3 separate regions of the Homo sapiens genome follow, and all the other regions are linked to region 1. Evidence: fine-mapped expression QTL. A gene starts in region 1. Each other region holds a variant in brackets. All regions are shown on one strand. Distances are from middle to middle.

The links. PIP is the estimated chance that this variant, and not a neighbour inherited with it, causes the effect.
Region 2: its variant is the best candidate, but not a certain one, in a credible set for the expression of PCSK2 in testis (GTEx, PIP 0.72).
Region 3: its variant is the best candidate, but not a certain one, in a credible set for the expression of PCSK2 in prefrontal cortex (ROSMAP, PIP 0.63).

What each region holds. Positions count from the first base shown.
Region 1 is chr20:17,221,539-17,231,679 of GRCh38, forward strand. It overlaps PCSK2 (proprotein convertase subtilisin/kexin type 2), which reads left to right and starts at 5,502. Exons shown (of 12, transcript NM_002594.5): 1 at 5,502-5,944. The coding sequence starts at 5,768.
Region 2 is chr20:17,314,493-17,324,633 of GRCh38, forward strand. The region is part of intron 2 of PCSK2 (proprotein convertase subtilisin/kexin type 2); the gene reads left to right. The region is part of intron 2 of LOC105372546 (a long non-coding RNA gene); the gene reads right to left. Among named protein-coding and RNA genes, the nearest start is that of PCSK2, 93 kb to the left of the region's middle. The variant G/A (reference allele first, on the strand shown) is at 4,834.
Region 3 is chr20:17,480,736-17,490,876 of GRCh38, forward strand. PCSK2 (proprotein convertase subtilisin/kexin type 2) reads left to right here. Exons shown (of 12, transcript NM_002594.5): 12 at 849-3,843. The coding sequence ends at 1,335. Among named protein-coding and RNA genes, the nearest start is that of BFSP1, 46 kb to the right of the region's middle. The variant C/A (reference allele first, on the strand shown) is at 4,769.

The DNA.
Region 1 (10,141 bases):
TGGATATATTCATTATCCGACTGCAGGGATTATTTCACAGGTGCATACATATATCAAAACTAGTTAAATTGCAAAACTAGTCAAACTTCACAGTTTACTATATGTTAACTATACCTTAACAAAGCTGTTTTGAAAAATTAAAAAGAAATTAATGCATAGTGAATGTGTTATTAGAACTTTAAAATAATCTAACTAGGTCCTATATTAATTATAACATCTGGATTGTAGGATTTTAAAAGAGAAAATAAATCTACAAACTAGGATTGAGTGACTAATTCTAGAAATATCTGTTTGTAAGGGTGTACTTTTTGGTTCACTCCAGTATCATAAGACAATAAAGTAAATATCATATAGTGAAATTCCCTAAAAATAGACAATGCCACGTTTTGCCAAAACATCTATGAAAGTATAGAATATTTTCAAAAGAGTGGAAAATATCTGAGAGCACAGCCATAAATTTATAACTGTTCCTCTAGCATGTTAAGTAACATTATACATCAATTTATCTACTCGGGGTAGGTCGTTCAAACTGATACTAAATAGTGTATAATTATCCAAAGCATTCAGATCAAAGTAAGTAGTTTCCTAGAATCTTATGTTTCATTATAATGGGCAGAGTTTACCTTATAAAATTAGTGTACACGTTTGAATGTATTAAATTTTATTTTACACATAAAATTTTTATCTTTTAAAATTCCTGTTTATATTTGCTAACAAGGCATATACTTTGTTCTCTCTGAATTATTTCTGAGTTATAAGTAGTTTGAGAAACACAAAAAAACTCCTTGTTGAAGATAATTTCCATAATTATTTAAAAAGTACATTGAGAAAGATTTACTATGGTTTTTAAAAGATCATGAAAAAGGAAAGAGAAATAACACAAGGTAGAGAATTCATGAATAGATAATCACTTTCCGCAGACAATAAGCAATGTTCCAATAAACCCTGAGAAATAACTAATTACTTTTCTAAGTGAGCAAACATTATTCTGTAGTCCCGTAGACCTGAAAAGGAATCTAAAGATAGTGAATAGCAATGTGTTCCTAATTTTCAAAAGAAGATTAAAAGGGCCGCTCGTCCTCATTGTTTAGCTGCTTCAAATCCTATCAAAATAATAGAACCTAAATTAGCAAAAGAAGCAAATTTTCACTGTCCTGGAAAATAAGGAAGTGAGAAGTAGCTTTTGTTTGTGAAGAGATGATTGGTCTGAGTAAATTGGATGACTTTGATGAAATTACAAAAGGAATATAACCCAAAGCACTGTAGATTCAATACTTTGATAATAATAAACACTTGAAGCCATATAAATTCTCTTCACTATATTAATTTAAGATGGCTTAAATAATAAAAATCAGCTGAGAATTTTCAACTGAAGGAAAAACAGAGATAGGTTATTTAAGGAAAAGATACAAGTTGGTGAAAGCTATAGGAATTGGAGGTAGGACCAACTGAATCACAGTGATTTAGAAGTGGGTGCATACTGAGAAACTAAAATTTCCCAAGTATCTGAATTTTTAGTTATAGCAAATGTGAGAGTATATGTAAATACTAGAGGAAAATGAGGTGAGTTCTTGGAAAATAAGAATAGTCTGGTGGAAAAAAAAAGACTTGATCAATGCTGAGTTCAAAATTGGGCAAAGATCTGTAAAGTGGTAACGATATTTCAGAAAGCCTGCATATGGGCTGGAATGGAGGGAACAGACAGGGCAGGGTCTTTAGGAATAATCCATTGAAAGGGTTGACAGTCAATATGGTTTGGCTCTGTGTCCCCACCCAAATCTCATCTTGAATTGTACTCCCATAATTCCCACATGTTGTAGGAGGGACCAAGTGGGAGGTAATTGAATCATGAGGGCAGTTTCCCCATACTGTTCTCGTGATAATGAATACGTCTCATGAGATCTGATGGTTATTATAAGGGGGAGTTTTCCTGCACAAGCTCTCTTTTTTTGCCTGCTGCCATCCATGTAAGACCTGACTTGATGCTCCTTGCTTTCTGCCATGATTGTGAAGCCTACCTAACCATGCGGAACTGTAAGTCCAATAAACCTCTTTCTGTTGTAAATTGCCCAGTCTCACGTATGTCTTTATCAGCAATGTGAAAACAAACTAATACAACAGTACAATATGACAGTAGAGAATTGTTCCTACCTGATTAATGTACCATTACTGCATTTAAAATGTTTGCAATGAATGCAGCAAAAATGGCAAAGCCCAACCTGATTTTTAACAAGGCTGTATTTTAAATTGTGATTTTCAGTGGTATATACCCTATTTCTCTCCAGATTACACATCCCACACAATTGAAGAGAAATCAACAGAAAAATTAGATCTTTCTCCAGTAGTCCAAAGAATATTCAAAGGTTTGGGGGACTCTCCTACGGCTGCTTCTGGCTTGCTCTGTACCCCCAGTGGTAGGTTTTCCTTGGCATGATGCTCTATGAATCCAAAGTTCTCCTTTTAGAAGTACATCTAAATGTGAGTATCCCAATCATGCCTCAGGTGGTTTTGGTTTTTTAAAAAATCACCCAAGGTCTCTTGATTTCTAGTATTAAGCCATAAAATGGGAGAGTTCTAGTCTTGTTTTGCAGGACAACATCTTCAAAGAGACTCTGGGGGCCTGTGGCACATCTGAGCCAGAACCAAACACCCGACGTCATTGTTACAGATACAAAAGTAAATAAATGAAAAGAAGCTCCAGGTATTGGTGATTTTTATATCTCGTGCTGTCAATCTGTTTGTGTCAGTTATTATTTTTTCAAGTACACAAAACTGATAAATATGAGACCATTTGGGGGAGGTTACACAAAAATAAGTATGCCTGTTGGCCACAATATGTTATTAAATAGTATTGTGGTCCTCAGCATTTCTCAAACTATTGATGATGCTTCCTACATTACAGCGTATGTTTTCACAACTCTTTTGAAATTATAGACTTTGGCTCTGAGGTATCTAATCCAACAGTCTCTTTTCACAGATAGAAAGATAGAGACTTTGAGAGGTGCAATATGTTGGCCCACAGCCAAGTGGTATACATACCTAGTACTAGCAGAGCCTGCAATAGGGTCCCTGGCAACAGGCTTCTAGGTCTATCCTCAAAATGTGCTGCTGCCATTCTCTCTACTGTCCACCTTGACTATTGTTATTGGAAAAAGGAGTTTGAGAAATAGTTGTCTAAAAGAGCAATTTGTGTGCACACATGGGTGTGTATTAGCATTTCAAATAACAATGTATCAATAGATATCCAAGGGATAAATACATTTCCTCTTCCACTTGCTTACTACATTGTTGTGTATTGAAAATTTAGTATTTGAATAACCAAAAAAATTATCTTTCCATTTGCTATTCTGTCCTGACAATATTATGATGAGCTGTATTTTATGTAAACCACTAAAGAGGACTTATTTTAATTAGTCATTCAGGTTTTATATCATTTCTGGCCAATTTTACACAGTTTTAGTTATTTAAAATGTAGCTATATGAGATTCAACATTTACCAGCATTTCATATTTGGAAACTATTTAAGAAATGAAGTGGCCAGGCGCAGTGGCTCACGCCTGTAATCCCAGCACTTTGGGAGGCCAAGGCGGGTGGATCACAAGGTCAGGAGATAGAGACCATACTGACTAACACGGTGAAACATGAAAACCTTGTGTTATAATCAAACGGATGGACTATGAGGGGGTAAGCTGTTAAACAATAGAGTAATAGAAAGGGGGAACAAAGGCAGAAATGAGCCTCTGAGCAGTAGTGAGCTGAGGGGCCCAGAGTTGATCTGTTTCCCTTTATTAATACTTTCACCGTGTTAATACTTTTCCAGAAACCTTGCCTCCACCATGGCCCTAAGTCCTAACAGATAGCTTAATTTTCTTAGAGGAATTCAAATAACAATAATAAATAATGTCACATAGACTTCTAATGTTTTAATAAAAACCTTCAGCAACGCCCACATTTTTACGTGACAATTTTTTAAAGGGCTATGAGGGAGCCAACTATGTCAGCAAACAGACATGCTCTGAAGACAGGGTGGTCCATGGCATTCAAAGTGTATTCATTTCTACCGATGGTGCTTTTCTTGCATAGGTTCTGACTTGTGTAGATTTGGACTTCAAGCTAAAATAAAAAGAGAGGAATATGTGTATACATGAGAATGTGTGTGTAACGTGTCGATGGTATAAATAGTCTCTTCCTCTCTCTCTGAATTGCATGCACTTAAGCCCCTAAGAAAAGATCTCTTACCTCTTATCTAAGTAAAGCAGAATTTTGAGCTTTGAAGCTAAATGATACAATGAGATCAGTGTAAATACTCTTTAACACAACAATATTTGAGTAGCTTTGAAACAGTCGTCCTCATTTCGTTACATACAGAACGTTCGTGCTTCCTCCCTCTCAGGCAAGAAGCGGAGTCCGTCGTCAGCAGTTAGCAGAGTCCAGTGCGAGTGCACGTTTCTTAACCGGATAACTTAGTTGCCCCTGCCCCCCGTCGCTGCGCCCGAATTCGCCTCCAGTAGAAGACGTTCAGCGGGCGACTTGGCCCGGCGCCTGGGATCGGTGGCTATGCGTTCCCCAACTAGCACCCTCGCTGTCCTTGTGCAGTGGAACGTCCCCAGGTCTGAGAATGCACCTCCCGCCGTGTCCACCCCGGCCGCGTCTCTCCTGAAGGCAGATCTTGGAGGTGCAGCCAGGACTCCTAGAGGAGCCTCCTCCAGTCACCATCGCGGGTGGGGCGAGCCGGGTCTCCTGCTGGGCTTCCCAGCCGCTTCGCTCCGGACCTGCCTGGAGCCTACAAAAAACAAGGGCTCGTCCTTGCACTCTCGCCCCCCATGGATCACCCCTAGAAGGTGCTTTCCCCAACCCTCCTGGTGCCAAGGAGAGCAAACCTCCCCGGGGATTTGCCCAAAGTGGTGGGAGGAGGGTTAATATTTGCTTTGTTATTCGGATAAGGGGAGGCAAGTATGCCTTGGGTGTGTGTGTGTGTGTTTGAGAGAGAGAGAAAGAGAGAGAGAGAGAGAGAGAGGTGTTTTTGCAGCGGGAAACAAGCAGGAAGAGGCACAGAGGCCGGCGCCCCTGCTCCCCTCGGGGCCTCTGAGAGCGGCACACACCGTAATTCCCTTCCCAGAGCCTACAGATTCCCACAAACAATGACATCACTCCGCCGCCGCTGGCCTGATTACAGCTGGGGGGATTTTCCTGGGCGCGCGGCGGGCCAGGCTGAGATGGGGGAGCTCTCCGGTGCTGAAAGGGGCGGGGGCGCGGGCTCGCTGCGCTGCGCTGCGCTGCGCTGCGCCCCCAGAAGGCGGAGGCGGCCGGGCCGGGCCGGGCCGGGGGTGGGCGGGGGCGGGCCCGGGGCGGCCCAGGGCGGGGCCCGCCGCTTCCCCCGCCCTCATTGGCCGCTGGCGGACTCACGTCACCCGAGCTGGTGCTCTCCCCCAGCCCCTAGGGAATTGGAGCTGAGGAGGAGCTGAAAATGCAGATTTAGCATCAAGCACAGACCTACACTCGCTCTTTCTCTCCGGTACACACAGCTCCCCACATTCGCACCCCTGCCCGCGCGCCGGGCCGCCTGACTGCACGGCTTCCCCTCCAGCCAGATGCTGGAGAACACACACTGATTCGCTGCTTTCCAAGACCCTGTTCAGTCTCTTTCTCTATACAAAGATTTTTTTAAAAACTATATATAAGAATTCTTTATTTGCACCCTCCCTCCGAGTCCCCTGCTCCGCCAGCCTGCGCGCCTCCTAGCACCACTTTTCACTCCCAAAGAAGGATGAAGGGTGGTTGTGTCTCCCAGTGGAAGGCGGCCGCCGGGTTCCTCTTCTGTGTCATGGTTTTTGCATCTGCTGAGCGACCGGTCTTCACGAATCATTTTCTTGTGGAGTTGCATAAAGGGGGAGAGGACAAAGCTCGCCAAGTTGCAGCAGAACACGGCTTTGGAGTCCGAAAGGTAAGCTCTCCCATGCATTTCGCATGTTGTTTCAAAACGGGGGGACGGGGGGGCAGCCCTGCGCAATCTCATTGCAGATTTGCAAGTTTTCTCTCTTTCTCATGCGATGCAGATATTCTGCCATGGGCTCTTTAACACGATATTGCCTCCGGTGATCTTTCACCGGTTATGTAATTAAAATGTCCTTCATCTGTACTAGTAAGGTCATCAAAATAATTTACTGCTCTTTGACTTGATGGCGAAAATAGGATAACACCTTTCACAGGATGCCATGCTCCGGGGATGCTGTCCGAGGTACCAAGTTCTCGAGGCTGCCTGGGGATGGAGGGATGAAGCCCTGAACAGCTAAGCCTGGCGTTGGCTACTTGGCCAGGGAAGTCTCCCCCACCCCCATCCCCCGGAGAAAGAATAGTTTCCTACAGACGAGGCTGGACGTTTGGACACTGCAATTCACCTCGGTGTTTCTCCCACCCCGCGCCGGGAGGACTTCCCTCCCAGGGACTTCGGTCCCTGCTCCTCTCCGGGAACAACGGCTTCCTGACTCTAGATTTGGAAAGAAACTGGTCTCTAAAATCGGGGCGGAACTTCTGCGCCCTCACCCCCGCCCACGACCGCCCACCCCTGGAGCGCACTTCTGGTTGGCTCCCTAGTTCTCAACTCCCGGCTACAGGAGCTGGAGAGGTGGATTTTGAGGGGGATTCCCTACGGAGAAGTCGAGGTGTCCTCTCCTGATGCGTGGGCGGCCAGCCTGGCTTTCCCACTAGAGCGTGGGGATCCCCATTCCAAGAAGTTGCCAGAGTTCGACAGTTTGAGCAGATAGGTGAGCCTCCCAGCTTTGGACACCTTGGATCTCCTTTGGAGACTCCAGGGTACTCATCCTGGGAGGACAGAGAGAAGGGCGCTGGGTGGGGGCTGTGGCTGACCTGCGTGTCTCTCCTGCAAAAGATGTATCAGGGTTCTCCAGTGTCCTTAGGGGACCTGGCGCAGGCTGGGGTGGAGTGTGGGTGCAGAGAGAAGGTGGGGCGAGGGGAACCCAAAGGACAGAGATGTGGCTACCAGAGGGCTGGGTGGAGGTCCCTGAGATTTTAGGCTCCATCTCGCTCCTGATCCCAGGAAGAGAGAGGAGTGAGATGAGCGGTGGGTGCTTTTGGTTATTGGTTTTGCCTTGAAGGGCCGCGCAGACCGAAGCTCTTATTAGTCTCTTCTGTCCTGACTTCCCAAGCCTCCCGCCTCTCTCCCAGCCACCGCCAGGGCTCCTCCAGGTGTGGGGGCCTCTCCCTCCTCCTAAGGGCGTAGGCAGTACCGGAATTTCGACCCCAGAAGGGTCTGGCGACGAGTTTGACAGAGGTCTGGGAAGAGGCTCTGGGTCCGCCGGTGGCGCGCGGGCGGGTCTTGCGGAAAGGAACTTGTTGCTCTGGAAAGCGTGGGTGGAGCAGGGGAAAGAAGGCGCCGGCGGAGGGAGCACCCCGCTGTGGTTTTGGCCCGTGGCCTGCCGGCTGTTTTGAGAGACACCAACACAATAAAGAAGCCGACCTTCCTTCTTCACTCCCCCCCACCCCAAACTTGGCAAGACCCAGGACCCAAACGCCATTATAAAATATAATAGTGATTATTATTAGTTATACGGAAGCTTACGTGCTGGAGTCCTTACATAGATTTTTACTTAATCTTCTCAACATCTCTGAGGAGGCTACTATCATTATTGAGCCTATGGCCCCGTTGAGGAAATTGGTTCAGAAAAGGGTGCGAGATAAAAACAGGCAAGGGCTTCAATCCAGATCTTTCAGAAGTGAACCCATGCTCTTTACTCCTTAGTACCCACCCAAGCAAGCTAGGTGCTTTCAGGGGATGTGGGGCATTGAGATAAGTTGAAAAGGGATTTTAATTCTTGAGTGTGATCTTGCTGCAGAAACCTGTGGCTCCCTCCCCCTCCCCCACACCTTTTCATGGGTGCGGGGGAGTGGGAGGGAGCCATAGGTTTCTGAAAACCATTGTTCTCAGTGGTTTTCTCTTCTCTTTGCTGCCCCCTTTGAAAATGTGCCCTTAGGATCAGAGATCAGATAACTAGGCCTCTTTGTCCTTCATTCTTTCTTGGAGAGGAGCACACTGATTTTGCATCACAACCTGAAACCTGCAGTTCCCATCTGAGAGACCTCTCTCCTTACTTCTCCATAACCTCTCAGGTAGTACCCCACAACCAAATCCAGTGATTTTTTTTCCCCTTTTACACGTTTAAGTAACAGGGACTGCCTGGTGCAACATCTGCCTAGAATAAACCTCCTTTTGGATCCATGTCTTGTCCATTCTTCAAGACCTAAATTCAAACCTTTCCTGATGCTACAGACCACAGTGAGCTTTCCCTCCTCCAAATTTTTATGCGACTGATAGGCAAACACTGCACTACATAAGCTAATAAATGCCATCACTTTTCCTCATTATTTCAGGTATATAAGTAAATATGGGTTCAGTTGTTGTATTTCTACTTAAAAGGTAAATATTCAGGGATGATACCTCCTATATTTCTCATTTCCTCCCTGTAACCAGCACATTACTGTTTTGCCAGCCTTGAAGGAAACTTCCTTGTCTGTATTTATTATCCCAGGTTTCCCAGACACCGTCCTATCTTGCTTTCATCATACTGTTTTGTACTTTTGCCAACATTTGTTATTGTGCATCTTAGAGGCCCTTATGTCCTTCTCCTTCCTTGCTCTGATGCTTAGCATGCTTCCCAACTCCCTACTGCTCCCTGCTCCGAGGCTCAGTGTCAGACACAAAAGATTCTCAGTGGTTATTTATTCATCCATATGAAAGGTCAGCAATGGAGGCTAGAAGAACATGCTTTCTTATTAAATTATCTCATTCTAAGCTCACAAATCTATGAGAGAAATTACTGGCATCAGCTGTAATTCTCAGATGAAAACCTTAAGGCCTTGAGAAGTTAAGTATCTGCTTATATCTGAGAAGTAAAAGAACTCAGACTTAAAACCAAATTTGCTTAACTGAAAAATAATTGCTTTTCTACATCATGCTGCCTCCAGGAAGCCTTCCCTGACTGCCAAGAACTCTTCCCTTGAGACACAATTTTAGAGCTCTGCTATTTTCCCTTTTCTTTTTACTTTTATTATATTTATCATTTATTTTCTATTAACACATGAACATGTCATTAGCTAATGGGTACGTGTATTTATGTCTTCAGGTAGACTATAAATCTTCCAAGAGGAGAAATGACATACTATATCTTTATATAGTCTCCATATCTAGCATGGTGGCCTGTATATGAATATTTAATTGTTTGTCAATTATTTGATTGATTCTTATAAGACCATGAACAAACATTTGTTTTCTCTCTAAAATGAAATAAAAGCACCTATAACTTTACCTCTGAAAAGGTTATGGAGATTAAAGCTTTCTATTTTATCATGACCTGGCCCTGGCCCAAAGACCTATGTCTATCAGAAAAGATACTTAAGTCTAGGAGAGTGAATGAGTTTACAGTAATGACAAAAGCATTATTCCAAAGAGTGCCTTAAAATTCTCAAAATGCTACTAATTTTAATTGATTTGAAACAGAAAACAAAAATTATTTATTGAAGCAACCTGTTGAAGATTAACCAAAAATCAAGTGAGAGTTAGGGTTTAAAAAGAACCTGATATTATCCTAGGGGTTTCATTGTATTATGGTGTGTTTTATGTTTTATCCACAGAGGACAGATGCTGAAATGATTACACAAGTAAAATCATGTGACCATTTTTATAATGTGTGAGAATTTTTTAATTTTGAAAACAACCTAATAATCATTATGCTGCCAGGTAGTAAAAAATTAATAAATTTCTGGTCGCTTCACTTTTATTAAAGTATAATTTAGGAAAGAACACAGCTTAGGGAATTTTCACAAACTGAGCACACATGTGTAACCAGCACCCAAATCAAGAAATAAAATATTACCAGTATCCCTAAGTCCTTTTCTCACTCACTTGCTTTGTTTTCAGGTTTTAGCTATTATAAATATAGCTTTTGTGGATATTAAAGTCTACGTATTTTGGCAAACACATATATGGCCTTCTACAGGGAATCCTAGAAATGGAATTGTTGAGTAAAAGGATATGCATGCATACAGCTTTATAAGACCATCAGTTTTCTATTGCTGTGTATCACTAAAAAACTTAGTGGCCTAAAACCACACAAGTTTGTTATTT
Region 2 (10,141 bases), 93 kb after region 1:
TTATGCTCTGAATAGCTTACAGTTACTGCCTTGGATGTGAACGATTTGGGAGGGACAAGTCTGTGCAGTGGCCTAAAGTGAGGCGTGAGTTTGTGCCTAGCTTGTCTGTGAAATTGGGTTTGTTTTTTCTGCTTTTACTACACATTAAGCCAGATGAACACAAGGACACCAGTTGTTACTTTTGAATGATTTTTAAAATTACATCTCTAGTAGGGAATATTGATTTACTTTATTGATTTTTTAAGATCCTTTCTATTTCTTTAGTGTCTGCTAGTCAGTGGCCTCAAAAATTGAATTTTCACGTGTTGTCTTTGCCACTTAACATTATCAGAAGCTTCTTGAATGTTTACTAATAGAAGTGTGACTCCTTTCATGCTTGCTGTGTCTAATGTTATTTTTGTGTTAGCAAAATTGCTCTTCAGGAATATGCTGATGGCTAACTTGCAGAAATAGAGATTTAGGATAGACATAATGAAGGACTTCCCTACAACACTGGATATTAAATGCTGAAAAAGGCTTTTCAATTCCTTCCTGAAATAAGCCAGGGCCATAAGCACTTAGCCCACTCTATCGAAGTCTCCCCGAGAAAACCCTGCGGCTTTCTCTGCGGATTCCTCCAGCCCAACACCGAGGAACCAGGGCCTGGGACTTCTGGAGTCCCTCCCAGGACTAATTCCCGCTCTGATGCCCAGCACAAATTTATCATAACTGCCTGACTCTCTCAGTGTGGTGTGGTGGTGGTGATGGTGTGTGTCTTCCTGAGTGTGTTGGTTGGGGATGTGGTGGGAGGGGTTGGCCAGAGAGTTGAATAAAGAGGAGGAAAAAAAAAAAGGAATTAGATTTTTCAGAACTGCACAACCAAAGATTTGCACACTTATTTATAGAGGTGACCCGTGAGCTTGGTTGACCCTGGATGCTTTTCTGCGCTATAAGGGAACCCGTGGGTGGCCGATCACTCTCTGGCCCTCCAGAGGGGGCCTCCCTCCTGCGCGGAAAGCGTCCCGGTGCACAGCGCCCAGCTCCCGGGTCTCTGTCGGACCTGCGACTCCCGGCGCCTTTCTGGTGCCCTCCACGCCCTCCACGGGCAGGGGCGGAGCTGAGGGGCCCACACAGCTCCCTCTGCCCCAAACGGGGCAGAGAATGAGTAGGTGCCTGCAGCCAGGGGCGCGCCCATCCTTTCGCACACAACAGGCTCCTGTTCTCTAGGCAGTGATTAAGTGAGAAAAAGAGAAGCCTGGCTTGGGGGTGAGTCTGGCGCTGGGTGAATGTGAATCGCCGACACGGTCTCCTGCAGGGCTGCGGCGTCCTGGCCCGTGGCTGTCATTCTGTCCCGGTGCTTCACCCCCGGCCGGTGTGAAGCCAGTGTGAATCCATGGCCCGCGCGGACACACCCGCCAAGCAGGCACAGGAGCAAGGGGCTCTAGCTGCGTCCACTCCCCAGGGTTAAAAATTAACTGTCCGGCCTTGCTGGCATCTCTGTTGACAACGCGATCATTCCTGCTGGGAGCGAGTGCGCCACAGAGATTAACTCTGCCTCTCCAGTCAGGCCGCCTGGGTTCCACTCCTAAGCCTTACCCTCTTTAAGGCTCGTTCTTCATAGGTCAGATGGATCTCAGTCGTCCTGACCGCATAGGGTTGCTCAGGCATAGAAGGCACTGGGCACCTGGTGTGGGCAAGTTGTGCCTGCTCAGTAAATATTAACTACCGACTCACAGGACATGCCTCTCTTTTTGCTACCCTCGCACGTTTCTTTTCTCGTTTCCTTCTCCATTGTCACTGACCCAGGGTTGGCTGATATAAGTGAAAAACACCAAGGGTGCCGTCTGTTATCTAAGTCATGCAAATGCTTTAAAATTATATGTCTGTGTATGTATGAATATATGTATCAGGCTCTGGGCACATAGAGGTGAAATATCATGTAAGCAAGCACTTGTATAATTTTCTTCAGATAACAAGCTTGAAAACACAGCCTCTACTTGTTTCCTTCCCTTCCCTGTCTCCCTTTCTCTACCAGAGCTTTCTGGACCATCTCCAAATAAACTACTTGCTCTCAAATCCCAGTGTCAGAGTCTGATTCTAAGTGAATCTAGAGTGCTGGCAACCCAGAATCCTTTTCCAGGATTCAGGATGGAATCTTACAGGAGATACACAGTCCTATAAAAAGTTAGAATAATAACGCAGCATCAATTTGTGCTTGATCATTAAGCTAATAATGCCTCCTTTCTCCACCAGCCCCATGTTTCTGATACTGTGATGTGTGATGTTGTAGTTGTGAAATGTAATATTGTGATGTGGCAGACAGATTATAAGAGTTGAATGCACCAGGAGATTTCCTGTGGCATTATAAGAGTTGAATGCACCAGGAGATTTCCCGTGACATAAGTAATTCTCAGGCCCTATGAAGTGCAGGCTTTAAAAAAATCTGGTTCAGCAGCCAAAAGTCATCAAAAATTAATGCTAGTATTTTCTCTCTCAGAGAATGCTAATGGGAACATGTTCTAAAGTCCACTTTTCTTTCCTTCCTTGTTTTCTCAGCTTTTTGAGAGTGCCACATTCTCTCTTTTTGCCCTGACATCTCCCAGCTTCCCAAACATTCTGACTCAGTCTTTTCTTCTCTCCCAACAGATGCTCCTGCTAGCTCTTAGTTAGGTAAATCAACTTAGCCTCTCTATATGCATTAATTCTCTCTCAGTTCCCAAACTCTCCCTAATAAAGAAGAACTTGAGAGTTGACTCAGCTGTCCCCCAGTATAAAGTGGTGGGCATGAGGGAGAGAAATGTGAATTACTGATACATAATTTTCCCCCTATTAAACTTTATTCCTTGGAACATCTTTGTGAATTCTGCAAATTCACAAAGATATTCATAGTCCTATATTCATTTGAATTATCCAAAGCTCCTTCCAGACCCAGTTGACCCATCTTTTCTTTCCTTTTCTCACTGGAGTGGGCATAATTTCCTGCCATTTCCCACTGTGCTGCCGCCAATTCTGGCTGTGTCCATTAGTGTCCCTCTTGACAAACTTGGATTTGAAAAATGGGCAACTAAATCTTCATTTATTAGACGTGTTTTTCTTTTACTAACAGCTGCCATCTGTTCCTCTCCACCTCAATACAACTCCCCCAATCCCTCCAGCATCCTTTTTGGACATTTTCATTCCAGTTCCTCTTTATTCATGTGCACATTCAATTGCCAGACAGTTTTTGAAAGAGTAGAAATAAGAAGTAACAGAAAATAGAAATAATAATAAAATACTACCCCCAAAATAAAAGAGACATGGGAAGAGTTTCTTTTTTCAAAAGGGAACACATAAACAACACATGAAAGGTTGGAAAATAACAAAGAAAATAATTTTTTAAAAAAAGATGTAGACGCAGGAAGGACAATTATGGAATGGCTGGAAAGATTAATAATAACCAAATAGCTTGAGGGTTGCCTGCAGCAGAGATGAAGAGAATAAATCAGAATAGAAAAAAGGTTTGCCTGATTCTATTTTACAGACAGTCTCTTAAAATGTATGTGTCATTCAAATTTGTTTTGATGTGTCAGTCATCTCCAGCATTCATCCTGGGCTTTGGATGCTACTTAGTTGCACGACTGGATGTGTTCTAAGATCTGCCATGCAGGTTATATTCTGATTTACTTGCTTACAGTGAGCTCCTATTTGGAACATAGTTCTGAATGCCAAAGAAAACCAAAGACAGAACACTTCCAGCTCAATTTCCATCTATAAAGTGGTCAAAGAAAACTCCAGTCCTTGAACTTGTGTTCTAGTCTTTTATGCACTGTTTAGAGGTTCTGCAGGGGCTTTATGCCTGCCCTCTGTGAGAGATGAAGCATGTTACCGGCTCCTGATGAATGGACATTTAAGATCCAAAATGTATTGAAGTCGAGTTGTCATCACGTTTTTCATTTGCCCAAGTCCTATATCCAAAAAAAAATGATGTTTTTCATCATTTCATATAGATGAAAAACAACATTACCAGCCCCTGTTTCAAAGGCAAAATGCATTCTGCATTGTATATGAGTTGGGTAATGTCAAGTGTCTGTGATTGCAGCGTGGGAGTTGTTTTGGTCTGTTTTATTTTGACTTAAGTCAGGAAACAATAAGTATGTTTGTCATTTTCCAAACAATATGGTCCAAAACCACTTGTGGCTGGTGTTCTTTCATCTCCACGGGGCATTCCACCCAACAATCACCATCTGCCAGGGACGCCTATGAATGTCAAAGTTCTGCTAGGTTTCTCTGAAGCCTGCTTCTGCTTTCAGCAGCTTTGAATAAGCTACAGGGCCACAATTTACTTCTATTGTCATTTCTTCAGGGAGATAGAGAGAAATACATCTGCCACTTTAGACAAGAAGCCCATGGGAAGAGTACACACACAATCAGAACAGCCAGAGCAGGATTATTCAATTCAGCTGCAATCAGAAATGGGGGAATAAGACAGAGAAGAAAAGCCCCATCTTGTTATGTGTAATGCTCATTTCTGAGCCAGTGTTTGAAGACAGATCATGCTTTGTGAGAAAAACATATTTTTTCATCAGATAGGATGTAATCAACCAAGAATTAATCATTAGTGAGCCATTAAATAATTAATTGTAAATTGTAACTAATTTCTGATTATTAAAATGACTTTTTTTTTATACCTGGGCTCCTATAATTCCCCATTTTAAATAGTTACCAAGCTACGCCCCGATAAGATAAAGACAAAAAAGTTGCAATAAGTTAGCTTTGGCTATGTAACAAACCATTAAGACATAATAGATTACCACAAAAAGTATTTATTAGTTCACTATAATCTGGGTCAGGCATTTAGGATGAGTTCCGCTAGGC[G/A]GATCTTCTGCTTGTCTTGCCTGGGGTTCCTCACGCAGAGGCAATCAGCTGATGGTGTCAGTAGGAGCCGATTGGTCTTGAACGGCCTCACTCACATTTCTGGTTTTAATGCTGGCTGCTGTCTGGGAGGTGCAAGGGATTGGGCCCTGTATATCTCCAACAGAGTAGCCCAAGATTGTTCACATGCTGGTGGTCAACAGTGTTCCAAGATGCAGCAAGACAGAACAAGCCCCAGTGCAGAAACATTTTTCAAGCATCTGCTTATAGCATGTTTACTATATTCCACTGGCAAAAGCAAGTCACTTGGCCAGGTCTAGGGCCAGTATGGGCAGGAAATCACAAGGGGGTGAACACTGGGAGGGGGGTATAAATCAAGGACGTTACTGCAACAACCTACCACAGACGTATCCTTGAAAATGCTTTTATCCGTATCACCAGACCAAAACTCTAGGGACTTTGAATCATGTAAGCATGTGCCAAAATGGATCTCAGCTATCTTCAAATCCTTCTTTGGACAACTTAAATTCAGAAAGGTGACTTTTTTGGGCCCAAAGTCACATGACTAACTCAATACTACATTAATTATGAAGGTATTGGCAAGCATCTGGAATCACTGATATAGTAGTTTCACTTAATTTTTAGGATAGGAAAATTTATTTATAAGGGGAAAATCTATCAGGACTAAAGAGTCTAGAAAATATTTTCAGAAAGAAAAGACAGAGCTCAGGTGGGCAGGTAAACAAGCAGATGTAATGAGGGAAAACCAACTGAAGCTCAAGGTGTTATGTTTTTCTTATATTATTTTCAGATTCATAAGGCAGTACTTCTCAAACTTCAATGTGCACATGAACTGCCTTTCCAGGGAGAACTGTCCTACTGCAAAAGGTGTATGCCCAGGAGACACTTAGCTCTCATCCATGTTGTTCCCAGAAATCATATAGAACTCATAGGACATACTCTGAAACCTGAATTCCTCCTCCTACAGTGCACCTTAGGGAGACTCGTTCCCTTGGTCGCAAGACACATCCTCCTGGAATCAGTGTCTTCTTTTCATAACTGCAGTTATCCACTGCAGCAGAGAAGAGCTGAATTCTCATGTCTCCCCTCCCTAGCCAGCCCACTTGATCTAAAAGTGTTCTGTACCCAGGTCAAGTTCCTCAGGCAGCACCAATGTGAAAGTGAGGAAGTGAGACAGGAAAGGGAAGAAACACCATAAAGTGTGTGTTTTCAAGGAAATTACCAGTGTGGGCAACTGGGACTCAGGCTTGCTGAGCACCTCTGGGAAACTGTGGAGAACATGACTCAGTCATCCACCCAATGGGAAGAAAGTTGGGTGTTTATCCACAAACTCCCTGTCAGAGACCGCTGGAGGGTGCTCGGGGAGGATTAGTTCTCCAGCACATCACTCTTCCTTAGGCACACAGCTAGTGAGTCAGAGAAAAGCCTTCAGGCAGAGACAGTATTTTGGGGTTTCTAAAAGCAGCTTCAAGCTTGTACAGGAGAATGCAGAAGGAATATGGGAAAGGCTAGAGTCCTTCTGCCTTAACCATCGCCGGAGTACTAACTAGAAAGTCAGGACTAGCTTAAATGTATAATGGTTGTGACTAAAACCAAGGCAAGCACATGAAAAGCAACACATTAGTAAAACAAGCAAAATGTTAGGCATCAAACAGCCCTGTCGGTTATTTCTGCCTTTTCCCCCTTCTGTTGACTGGTTGGGTTATGTTGTTGTTGTTATGCCAACCAATAATGTCTCAGCTGCCTTAAATAAAGTATTTGTTTTCAACATTATTCACCCAAGTTACTCAACAGGAAAGCAAAGATTTTTTCCTTGCTTTCCATTAGGAAGCAATATTAGTTAGATCTGGATTTCATTCTGTCCCTGTCGTCTCTCAAAACTGTGACCTTGGCCAAGTTATCCTCCCTCAACTTCAGTTTCCTTATCTGTTAAAAGACAATAGCAATTCTGACCACATAGGATTGCAGTGACAGAAGTATGTAAGCAGCCCATCCATGAAAGGCACACAAATGTTGTCCTCCTTCTTCCCCACTCTCCAATACTCTCCTCACTGCTGAGGATTAAATTCAATTCTACTTAATCAATTTATGTTGAAGTTTTACTGTGTGTAGACTCTGTCTTGGATTACATAGCAAGTATAGAGCTAATAATCCTTTCTTTCTAATAGCTTTCCATTTTGGGGAAAGACAGGCATATAAAGCTCTAACAAAATCAGGTAATGATAAGTACTTCTTTCAATGTGAAGAGCATCATGCTCTGATCCTACAGGGAGAAACAAATTATCCTCTATTTTCTTGTAATTTACATAACAGTAGTTGATTCCATAATTCACTCTCAACTGCTAGAGTCTGCAAGATTCCCACCAACTGCCATCTTCAGCAGAATTGTATTACACATGAAAAAACCTTTGACTAACCTCTAATTGATTCCGACATTCCAAGAACTATTAAAAAGAGTTGAAAATAATCTAGAAACTGCTGACTTGTATCAGGCATAGATTTATTCAGACAAAACAGAGAGACAGAAGGATTTTGAAGTGAGATGGTTTTGTCAATTGGGCATAACAAAGGAAGAAAAATAAAAATTATCGTTCATGCTTTGAAAATCTCTCTTGTGATGTACCTCTCTGCTACAGTACCTGGCATTTAGAGGTGTTTAACCAATGTTAGGGAAGAAAACTAACACTGGTTAAACACCTCTAAATGCCAAGTACTATAACAGAGTACTCATTGATCATTTTATTCAATCTTATCTACTCTTCAAAGCCCACAAAAGAAACCTGTTGATCAAGCAAAGCTTATCACACTTCCTGCAATAAGAGAGAACATTGTCTTAATGGAGAATGGTTTTAGGGCCTGAGCTGGGTGATTTCGAAGTTGGTCTTGCAAGGCAGGGCACTTGTTGGGACTGGAAAAGTTTATGAAAAGTTTCTTTGGGTTGGTAAGCATATGGAGGTAAGGGTCTTGAAAGGAGTATTGATGAGTAAGTCATCAATCTTGATAAGTAAGCTGTTTCATTGGTGTTATGGGATAAACTGTGCCCCTCTAAAATTCATAGGTTGAAGGCCCAACCCCCCTTCCTCAGAATGAGACTGTATTTGGAGATAGGCCTTCAAGGGGGTAATTAAGGTTAAACAATGTCATATGGTTGAGCCCTAATCCAATATGACTTATGTCTTAGTTCATTTGTGCTGCTATAACAAAATGCCATTGACTGAATAATTTATGAAGAACAGAAATTTATTTCTCACAGTTCTGGAGGCTGGTAGGTCTAAGATCAAGGCCAAGGCCAGCAGTTATGGGGTCTGTCAGGAGCCCAGTCTCTCCTTCCAAGATGGCACCTTGTTGCTGCATCTACCACAGGGAAGGAACACTGTGTCCTCACATGGTAGAAGTGATGGAAGGACAAGAAAGGTGAACTCTCTCTGATGCTTCTTTTATAAGGGCATTAATTTATTCATGGAAGTGGCACCTTCATGACTTAATCACTTTCCAAAAGGCCCCAGTTCTTTTTTGTTTTGTTTTGTTTTGTTTTTCTTGAGATGGAGTTCACTCTGTCACCCAGGCTGGAGTCCAATGGCGTGATCTCGGCTTACTACAATCTCCACCTCCTGGGTTCAAGTGATTCTCCTGCCTCACTCTCCCAGAGTAGCTGGGATTACAGGTGCATGCCACCACGCCTGGCTAATTTTTGTATTATTAGTAGAGATGGGGTTTCACTATGTTGGCCAGGCTGGTGTCAAACTCCTAACCTTAGGTGATCCGCCCACCTCAGCCTTCCAAAATGCTGGGATTACAGGCGTGAGTCACCGCACCCAGCCAAGGCCCCACTTCTTAATACCACCATAATGGGAAGTAAGTTACAACACATGAATTCTGAGGGACATTCAGACCATAGCAAATAGTGTCCTTATAAGAAGAGGAGATTAGGACACAGACGCACACAGAGGGATGACCATGTGAGGAAACACAGGGAGAAGACAGCCATCTGCAAGCCAAGGAGAGGTGCCTCAGAGGAAACAAAACATGCCAACACCTTGATCTCGGACTTCCAGCCTCCAGAACTGTGGGCAAATAAATTTCTGTTATTTATAGCCACCTGTTCTCACAGCCCTAGCAAACTAATATAATCGGTTCACAGTCATCTTTTTGGTACTTCCAGAAACAGGAGATTAAGTAACATACCCAAGATTACAAAGCTATTAATGTGGAGCCAGGGTTCTAACTTCAGTCTACTGAACTACAAAACCAAGTTCTGCATATTTTAAACTTTCCTCTGAAGCAGAAACAAATTATAAATAGGGACTAAATAGAAAGTAACTAAAGCTTTGTTATATGTTTCTTCAATTGCTCAGTTTTCCATGGGCAGCACAGGGCACTCATTGCTGTTTCTTTTCTACAGCCTCCAGCCTAGGACAGCATTTTTGTTTATAAGATATAAAAGCCAGCCAGTGTTTTATCCAGGTGAGCTGACACTCTTGTGTCCCACCCACTGTCCTCAGGCCTGACCATTTCTGGGAGCAGAGATTCTGTGATTTCCAACTGCCAATACCTGCAACTCTTCATCTTAGGCAGTTCCCACTTGGCCCTGGTTCAGGGCAGATTGGAAGTTCTGAGTAGTGAATGCTCCCCACCAGAGAAGCCCTCAACCAATGATTGATGGGAGTTGGTGGACAAATACCCCAGTTCCCTCCTCCCTCACGTGGGATGACTCTGAGACATGTTTTCTGTACTATTCCCAGAATTCCCCAATGGGATTGACACCTAGTTGTGGACAGTAGTAACAAGCCTGATAACATACCTTGTATTGGCTGCCTTTTCTCCCCATTGTTGCTTTTTGGGATTGCCTCCTAGATAAACTATACTCAAGTCTTTGTCTTGGGGTCTTCTGGAGAAGCTCAAATGATACCAGGCTATAACCACTGGCTCCAATCTGACAGTCACCTCCCATCTCCAACACCTCTGTATGGATCTCTAGGTTTCTTAAGCAAGAGGCCACTTTCTTTAACATGACCTGGAAGAGCTGGCATGATCTGGCACCTACCTACCTATTCTTATCAGGGTTCTTAGGTTTAACAACAGAAGTAGAATCTGGGTAACTAATGCAGAAAATGAATTTATTACAAGGGCATCTCTCACAGAATCAGATTAGCAAGATGGGAACCAGGCTGATTTAGAGACGAGTAACCAAGGCCCTACCATAAGAACCATCGACTTAGGACACTCCTGCAGACCCTAGCCCACCTTGGTCCTGATCACCCTCTTCCTGCTGCCAGATTCCACAACCCAG
Region 3 (10,141 bases), 260 kb after region 1:
GAGTTGCCACCGTGGGCAGCTGAGCTCAGTCCCACTAGGGACACTGAGTTGTCACGCTGAGGAATAGAGAAACCGGGGTAAAAACCTGTCAGTCACTGGGAGAGAGCTACCCCTCAAAGGTTAAATCCCTGCCACCTTTGGGCCGCCCTGCACGCAGGCTGTGCAGGCTTCCACGGAGGTGGGAGGAAGCCCAGGGGGAACACGGGGAGATTCTCGTGCCTGGGGTGGGAAGCAGTGGACGTGCAAGGGAGCTTCAGCTGCAGGTGAACTCAGAAGGGACTTAGGAGACTCAGGAGGGACATCACAGCATCTACTACATTCTCCTTCCACACAGAAGGTTCCAAGCGTAAGTAACTTGCTCACAGCCGGGCGTGGTGGCTCACACCTGTAATCCCAGCACTTTGGGAGGCCAAGGCAGCTGGATCACTTGAGGCCAGGAGTTCAAGACCAGCCTGGCCAACATGGTGAAACTCCGTCTCTACTAAAAATACAAAAAATTAGCCAGGCGTGGTGGCACATGCCTGTAACCCTGGCTACTGGGGAGGCTGAGGCATGAGAATCACTTGAACCCAGGAGCTGAAGGTTGCAGTGAGCTGAGATCACACCACTGCACTCCAGCCCGGGCAACAGAGTGGGACCCTGTCTCAAAAGACAAAAAAAAAAAAAAAAAAAAAAAAAAGAGATAAGTAACTTACTCAGGCTCACACAGCCAGTGTGGGAACTAAACCCAGGTCTGATTGATCAACCCCAAAGCCCTTGCCCTTTCCGCCACCTGAAGCTGCCCTCAAAATCCCTTGTAAGGTGCACCCACCACTGCTTATCCTATCTCCTCTTCACTCTGCCCTCAGGAAAATACCATCCACTGGCAAGTTGGTGCTGACACTCACAACCGACGCCTGTGAGGGGAAGGAAAATTTTGTCCGCTACCTGGAGCATGTCCAGGCTGTCATCACGGTCAACGCAACCAGAAGAGGAGACCTGAACATCAACATGACTTCCCCTATGGGCACCAAGTCCATTTTGCTGAGCCGGCGTCCAAGGGATGACGACTCCAAGGTGGGCTTTGACAAGTGGCCTTTCATGACCACTCACACGTGGGGGGAAGACGCCCGAGGCACCTGGACCCTGGAGCTGGGATTTGTCGGCAGCGCCCCGCAGAAGGGGGTGCTGAAGGAGTGGACCCTGATGCTGCATGGCACTCAGAGTGCCCCGTACATCGACCAGGTGGTGCGGGATTACCAGTCCAAGTTGGCCATGTCCAAGAAAGAGGAGCTGGAGGAAGAGCTGGACGAAGCCGTGGAGAGAAGCCTGAAAAGCATCCTTAACAAGAACTAGCGCTGCACATCCGCCTTTCCCACCGCCCTCCCTCCCCAGCTCCGCCTCTGTCCTCGCTCCACGTTTCAGGCAGGCACCTAGCAATTCCATCACCCGTACAGGCAATTCCGTCTTCTTAATCTGAAGCTTCACTCACTGTCAATGATTATTTTCATTACAATGGAAACAATCTTTTTTACTCTATGCCCCAAATATAGCGTTCCCAACAACATCCATGTCCTATGTGTGACTCTAAATTCTTTATTTCTGTCATTCAAATGGGTGATATCCTGAAAAAAAAAAAAAAAAAAAAACTGGGACAGCTTTCCCCTCATTTTTTTTTTTGTTTCTGAGAAAAGAACGTATTTTAAAAGCCACATAGAGTGACTCCAAGAACAATTGTCCATGGTCTCAAACAAGGGGCTGTTACATAACAAGAAAATCAAAGCTGAGGACAGGGTGTGAGCGCCACATCTCTGAAAGCACAGGAGACACTGTGCTATAAATCCTTTGGGGAGCGATGTTTTGAATTTAGTGAGATTTACCAGGGATGTAGATTAAGGTGATGTGATTCAAAAGATGCCATTCATAGAGAGCCCTAGTTACTGCATGGGGAAAGAGATCCAGGAAGCATGAGTGCTGGATATTTTACTACCAATGCCAAGATAATTCACTCTACTCAGCCGGCGTGGCAAATATAAAACTTACAGAGCGTGGCTGTGCTCTCACCAGCTGCTGCTCTGAGTTATGTTAAAATCCGCTAGAGCAGCCCAAATTTTTCTCAGTTTGTATAGAGTTCATCCCAGCCCCAATTTTCTGGGGCTCCTCACATAGCTACCCAAAAGAGAAAAAAAATTAAGACAAGCCTGGCAACACACCTGGTGAAGAGTAGTTTACTAGCTTTTCAAACAAGAATGTCCCTTTTCCTAAGTCACTTTGAGGTGTCTCAATCTGATCTGAGTGAGAGGCGACAGGAGTATTTTTTTTTTTTTACAGCTTTACACACACAGATGTGGGCTTTGATTTCCAAGTAATATAATGGAAGAGAAATCTCATACTCCCCCACAGTTTGATGTCATTAATGTGTTGGGAAAAAGGCCTCTGTCCCGGAAGAGTCATGGGAGGTGAAAGGGGCACGTTTGAAGATGCGAGCGCTATCTTCACATAGTTCTCCAGTTGTATGGAGCCTCTTCTGCCAAGAGAGGGCCATGCAATTCATCCCAGAGGAACCTGAGGCCTGAAGGAGGTGAGAGAAGACCTCTGTGAGGAAAGCACACAGTCACCTTCTCGGCAACTAAGCAGTCCCTGAGACCATTTAACATGCAACCCGAAGGTTATGGTCAATCCCAAAAGTCACCACTCCATTCCCAACTAGACATTACCAAAGTGACCTACCCAGAGATTGCTTCTCATCCCCAGTCCCAATGCACATCCATTCCCAAGAAATGCTTTGTCTTCAGCCTCTCCAGGCACCATCTCCCTTCCTGTGGGAGCAGAGAGCTTAGCCTGGAGCACCTTTCCTTCAAGCCAGCAACACAGAGCACTAGGTTCAATTCCCTGAAGGTGGCCACTTTAAGAGAGAAATCTGAAAACCCCATTTGCTTTCTTTTCTCCCATATTGGCATGGATTTCTGTCTTCTCTAACACCTTGTGACCTTCTCTATATCATGCTTTAAAGTGTAATAATATGATTTTTTAAAAGAAATTTATTACTTGTTGCAAAGGTCTTTTTAAACCAGTTTAGATTTCAAGAAAAAATAAATGGAAATCATCGAAAATTCATTTCACATTAATGGTCTAAAAATAAACCAAAGGACATTATGTGTGCATGTGTGTATAAGTGCACACAGAAATATATATACATATGTAGACTATATACATGTGTGTATATATGTGTATATATACATACACTTGTATAAATGTATATACACATATACCTATAATGTGTGTATGTGTATTTATTGAAGAAACAGATACCATACTCATTTCTAAAAGAATATTCAGAGAATATCAAGATGATTCTGGCTGAAAAAGGCCAGTGGAAATTCAGGTGAAAATGTTCATCAATTCCCATTGCATCACCTCTGTAATTTTTCAGCTCTCTGTATAAACATTAAATGTCTTATATAGCAGCAAAAATATAAAATAGTTGTCCATATTTTCACAGGTGTGGTGTAATTTATAAAATTAGAAAGCAACTTATCAGCTACTTAAGAGAAATGGCAAGTTTTGATATGAGTATACAATATATAAAAATATATATAGTGCTATATATATAAATATTTGGTCTCTATTTCATTTTTTGCATCAGTATTAATACTAAAATATGTCTCGCTAGTGATGTTTTTATGATATCCCTGATCCTAACTGAAGAGACAGTTATTTATAGTCATTTATTTTAAAAAATGAAAATAAGTGAATAATAATTAGGTTAACATTGTTGCTCCCTGTGACAAAATTTTATAAGCAAATTTCAAAAGACATGTTGTAAATTAGGAGGCTCAACAATAAAACATTATGCTCCAGAAATTATGTGAGATGTGCTATATTGTACATGAAAATACTTTCATCCATTCTAGGAACAGATAATTTAAAAATTGCCAAAGAGAGATCTAAAGAGCCTGCTTTACTAAGTATGCATAAAAGACTTATAATTAACATATAAATCATACACAAATTATTATCTACAGCAGTATTTTTCAAACTCTAGTTACATCCATTAGTGGGTTGTAAAATCAATTTAGGAGGTCAGTTTTTAATAAAATAGAGTAATTTAGAATACAGTAGGAGAGAAGAAAATCACAGGATAGGATAGGATAGAATAGAATAGAATAGAATAGAATAGAATAGAATAATCATGCATAATAAGGATAAGTATTGTTTCCTGAAATATTTGTTTCAGATGTGTGTGTGCACACGTGTGTGTGTCTGAGTGTGTGTACTGGATCACAATGTAAAATACATTTTTCATTGTGAGTGATGGTCAAAAATCTTTTAGAAACACTATTCTAAAATATATTAATCAGGCTAGACTAAGTTATGCTATAGTAACAGACAATCTCAAAATCTCAGTGGTTTAATACAACAAAGGTTTATTTATCATCCACACAAATTCCAGTGAAGGTTCAGGTGACTCCCCAAAGCCACAGACCTCCATGCAGTGACTCAGGATCCAGGCTGTTTCACCGTATGGTTTGTAATCATAGCACAAGGCTGCTACAATCACCATGCAGAAGAGAACCCAAGGAGGACATTCATCTGCTCTTCTATGTTTAGCCTGAAGGAGACACATGCATCGCTTCTGCCCATTGCCCACTGGCCAGTATTGGGCAATAGCCCTGGCTAAATGCAAAGCAACTGGGAAATCTGTGACAACTAAGGGAATATTTGGTGAGCATTAGAGTCTCCACTACAGAGAGTGCTTGACATTCCCTTAAAACATGTTCTTAAGAAC[C/A]GATTTAACATGGCAATCACTCTTCATGGATGGTACCATGAACATTATTACAAACTGGCTGTACCTTACCCCATAGACCACAGACTATTCTAGAAAAAGACCTTAATAATTATTCATAAAATATTAATATACTATATTTACCAAAGTTAATTATAAAAACAATTTATAATTCTGTCCTCTGATATAACACTTAAACTCAATTATTAAAATCTTAGCCGGGCATGGTGGCATGTGCCTGTAGTATCAGCTACTCAGGAGGCTGAGGTGGGAGGATAGCTTCAGCTCAGGAGGTAGAAGCTGCAGTGAGCCGTGATCACACCACTGCACTCCAACCTAGGTGAAGAGCAAGACACTGTCCCAAAAATAAATAAATATAAACAGAGTCTGTTACTAAAAATAGATATTGGCGGATATAAGGTCCAAGGTTTGATCTTGTGATCCTGAGACACTCCTTTTTAATACTTAGGTTTAAAGATGGATTTCCAAAAGATTAAGTTTAAAAAATGATTTTTAAAAATTCCGATAGAGTTACTACTCTATGTCTTCATTCGTATCACTTATAAGTTAATGCATGGTTTTCATGTGATCAGCGCATTTGCTTGGAGTGATTATATGAAAACCACACAGTGTAAGACCTTCAGGACACATAAGTATTTTATAGTTAACAGAAAGAAGTGCTGAATTAGGGGAAATGGTGATCTCACAGCTAAAGTGTTTAGATGCAAATAGTCTAATTTGGTAGAAATTTCTAAAAAGCAAAATGCAAAGATAAAGGACAGTGGTTGTGGAAGAGAGTTAGGGGATCCTTAAAACTCTGGAATTGTGAAATGCCAGAGACAGAATGTCTCCTAGGCTAATGTAGGTGGTTCAGTTGTGGCCAGCAGGGTGGTTCTTTGTCTCTAAAGAATAAGTCAAGAGAAAGGGTGGGAGGATGGAGGGCACTCAGCACATGGGAGCTTAGAATAAATGAGAGTCAGGGTGACCAAAGCTGGAAGACAGTGTCTGGCAGCATTCAGGGTAGGGAAACATGAAGCCTGACATAAGGGAGAATTCCAGTCTCTGAAGAGCTGAAGTCTATCGAGGGATACAGGCCAATACATTGGCAAAGCCACCCCCAGAGAGAGTGCATTAAAACACCACCACTTGCCAATGGTCCCATTGCATGCTCACCCACAGCCTCCTCATGCCTTATGCAGCTTCCCAAGAACATTAACACCGGTATAAACGATCCAAGCAGCTAGATCTGCAGAAAACAACACCCTCTCTTTGAATTGTAAACTAATCAGCTAGTACTTGAGTTTTTCCATTAGTCTCTTGTGCATTTAGTTGAACCCTTTCCTTGGCTTCAAAAAACCCTGATCAAATTTGGTTTAAGATGTATAAGGGACCTGGAATCAAAGTCTGAGAACCTAGGGTAAATTCTCCAAGCCAAGGTCCTGGCTCCATGTTTCTCTTAGAACTGAGAAGAGACTCACGTTTGTGAACCTGGGAATAGAATGATCTCAGGTGAGGGATGCACTCAGCCTAAAAAGATGAAGATTCTGTGTGGCTAAATGTTTAATGCTCATTCATGCATGATTTGCGGTGGGATGGGATGGGAAGGCAACTAGAAATCTCAGCTCACAGAGTTTCAGGTGCCAGAAGAGCCACATGAGGCTGGTAATTCCTTAGGCCTAACGTCACTGTTACTGATTTCCAACCAGGAGGCTTTGGGCCAACCTGCCCTCCCCATCCCAAGATGGGGTGTGCCAGCTCCCCATCCCAAGATGGGGTGTGCCACCTCACAACACCCTCAAAGATGTCCCTCTGAATCTGAGAGGATATCCCATGAGCTACTCAAACTAGATGGAGGGAAGAAGCTAAAATTTATCTTTTTCTTTTCTGGCACCATGTCCCAGGACCACTGATGGGCCACAGGTGACAGGCAAGCTCCTGGTCACAAGGATGCAAGCATGAGGGTAAAGGGGCAGGTACAGCTGGTGAGGGCATCAGCCCAGTGGAGTCATTGACCAGGAGTGTATCTTCTGATAAAATAAGTTTCAACTCAAAAACTCTGTTTGAATACAACATAAGTCAGTGTGGCTTTTTATGTTGTTTGCTTGCTTTTATCCATGCCTGAGAAAATGGAGTCAGGTATTGTACCAATCAAGATACCAATCATCAATGTGCCAAATGCCATGTGAGTTTTGGGGTGACTTCATTCACCAGCAGTGTCCTAACCACAAATCTATGTTAGAAAAATTTTAGGATAAACTTGATAGTAATGGCTGCTTGAAGATTTTGTTTGTTTGTTTTTCGGGGTTTTTTTTCATTTAGGTTTTGTTTGTTCGTTTGTTTGTTTGTTTTTGAGACAAAGTCTTGTTCTGTTGCCCAGGCTGGAGTGTAGTGGCATGATCTCAGGCTCACTGCAACCTCCGCCTCCCAGGTTCAAGCGACTCTCCTGCCTCGACCTCCCCTGGTATTACAGGCGTGTGTGACCATGCCTGGCTAATTTTTAAAATATTTTTAGTAGAGATGGGGTTTCACCATGTTGGCCAGGCTGGTGTCGAACTCCTGACCTCAGATGATCCACCTGCTTCAGCCTCCCAAAGTGCTGGGACTACAGGAGTAAGCCACCATGCCCGGCCAGATCTTTCTTATAATGTAAGCTTCAAGTCGAGGAGAGAACTAAATGGAATTTCCCAACATGAAGGTGGAAGGAAGAGACAGGTTCCAATGCCAGGTTTAGAAGTGTCTTCTGAGATGTTAACTGAATTTTGCGGCAGACTGTTGGTGCATCCTCTGTATCAGGGAGTCTGCAAACTATAGCCAAACCCAGTACGCGGTCTGCTTTTATAAATACAGTTTTGTTGGAGACAACTGTGCTTGTTTGTTGTTGTATTGTCTATGGCTGATTTCATGCTACCACAAGAGAGCTGAGTAGTTACAGCAGAGGCTGTGTGGCCTACAATCTGGCCCTTTACAGAAAAGGTTTGCCAACCTCTGCCCTATATCTCCTTGGCCCACCTAAAGGTTATCTGTAGGCAGTTTCCATGCATGCCAAAGGCCATTCTATCACTCTGCCCAGCTGCAGAAAAGCCCCAGACCTCGTGTGGAGCAGGCCACAGGTGATAGGGCATCAGTGCCCTAGGGCCACCCTCTCCTGAGGAGAAATGGGATGGAGAGCTGGTAGACGGATAGCTCAGCTTCCTCACCTCCTGCTTGGGACAATTTGAAGATGTTCCACCCGCTCTCTTGAAGGGTCCCCAGTGGGATGGAGCCCCAGCTGCTCACAGTGGTGGCCACCTCATTAATGCCCCCTGCGTGGACACATCCATTCCCCATCTCATGCCTCCTCTTTCTCCAGTCAGGAGACAGAAACCATACCAGTGGTTTTAACAGAGAGAATTTAATACAAAGTACCATACAATTAGTATAATGAATTGTTACCTAGTTAATTCAAAAAGCAAAAGAAAACACAAGAATCACATGGACCAAAAAGTCCAACATTTGTGGGAGTGGGGGGCTCACGCAATGAAGATGCCCTCCTGGCTCGGGCAGGATCCTAAGGCATCCGTGGCACCCCAGCCTGCCTTACCCACCCACAGTGCCCGGAAGTGGAGCACAAGTGCACGTGTTAGGACCTGAAAGATGGGGAGTTAAGACCTGGCAGAGTGAAGCCAGAGGAAGCTCAGGTGGAGGTCTGTAGTGGTCCCAATGTGCAAATCAGTCATCTGACTTGGGTACAGGTGCATGAGGCCAAAAGATTAGAGAAACCACCCAGCAGCTGGTTCATGCCAAGATTTCCCTCAGGACCACTGGCACTCTCTCAAGGAAACCCATGCAGATTTTTTCTTGTAAAACCAACGCTTACAGTCTTTAGGGAGAAGCCCAGCGGGTGGTATGGCGCTGGTTATGGAATACAAGTGCCTAGTGGGCCACTTCTTGTCAGCAGACCTTCAAGAAGCAGCTAGCTACCACCTAAGAGGAGAGGTTGGAATTAATACAACTTGGAAGTCTCAGAGGTGGGAGTGTGCTGGGACCCAGACCAAGGAGGGGCATCAGCAGGCTAGTGCAGGTATCTCTGCAGAGACTGCGATGAGGCTGGTCCTGCAAATGCTGGGAAAATGGAGAACTGGACTCAGCTGCTGCTACAGGAAGGAACTGCCACTGCCAGGGTGAAGAAGCTGTCTCAGTCCATTTGGGCTGCTGTAACAGAATGTCATAGACTGGGTACCTTATAAACAACACAAATTTATTTCTCACTCTTCTGGAGGCTGGGGGATCCAAGATCAAGGTGCCAGCAAATTCAGCGTCTGGCAAAGGCCCACTTCCTGGTTCATAGATGGCACCTCCTCACTCCGAACTCACATGCTAGAAGGGATGAGGGGGTCTCTAAGGTCTCTTTCATAAGGGCACTAATCTGGTTCATGAGGGCTCTGCCCTATGACCTAATCACCTCCCAAAGGCCCCACTTCCTAATACCTTCACCTTGGGGTAAGGCCTTCAACATATGAATTTGCAAGGGACATAAACATTCAGACCACAGAAGGATTGCTGGGGTGGTGTGGACAAGAGCAGAAAGCAAACAAAAGCCAGCGAGTGCCTTCTTCCTCCTCCAGACTTTCAGTCTTCCCCCAGCTCCCCTCTAACAGCACCTCCCAGGGAGCAGCTGGCTAAGCAGGACCTGGCTGCAGAGTCCCAGCCCCAGCATCACTGGGTAGAGAGGGGCAGGTTTGAAGCAAGAGACAGGAGCTTACTATCCTTCCTGCGACACCACCCTAACAAACCGCCTGCACCCAAGACCTTTCTCCGGGTCTGCTTTGGGGGACAACCCAACTTCATCCAAACCTCCTTATCTGTTGATACCTAACCTTATTACTTAGCAGTTATCTTTGGGGTTACAAGCAAAGAAAACCAACTCTAACTAGCGAAAACAAGTAAGCAGTATGTCAAAAACATGTGGTGTAGCCCTCAGGCCTGAAGAACCAGCCAACACCATCCTAGAAAAAAGACAGTGATTGGAGCAAGGCTGGGGACCCGGAAACACAGCAAGGATTGGCAGGCAACCTTGCCGGGGTCTCAGGCGGCAAGTGCCAGCACCTGCAGCCTGCGCTATACTGGACTCAGATTTCTAATTTCATTGAGGGTGAATCTGATTGGGCTGGTCCGGGTCACTGGCCCACCCTGAGGCCAGAGGAAGGCAGAATATCTTGATACATTAGGGTTGTATCCAGTGTGGGAGGAGCGGCTACTCAATACAAAATCAGGGCTGTCACCTGAGGGACGGGAGGTAGGAGTGGCAGATGTTAGTCTGCTGTCTCAGGTTGGGTCCTCCAGAAGGCAACCCTGAGACAAGGAGTGAAGGGCAAGTCATTTATGTGAAAGGAAGCA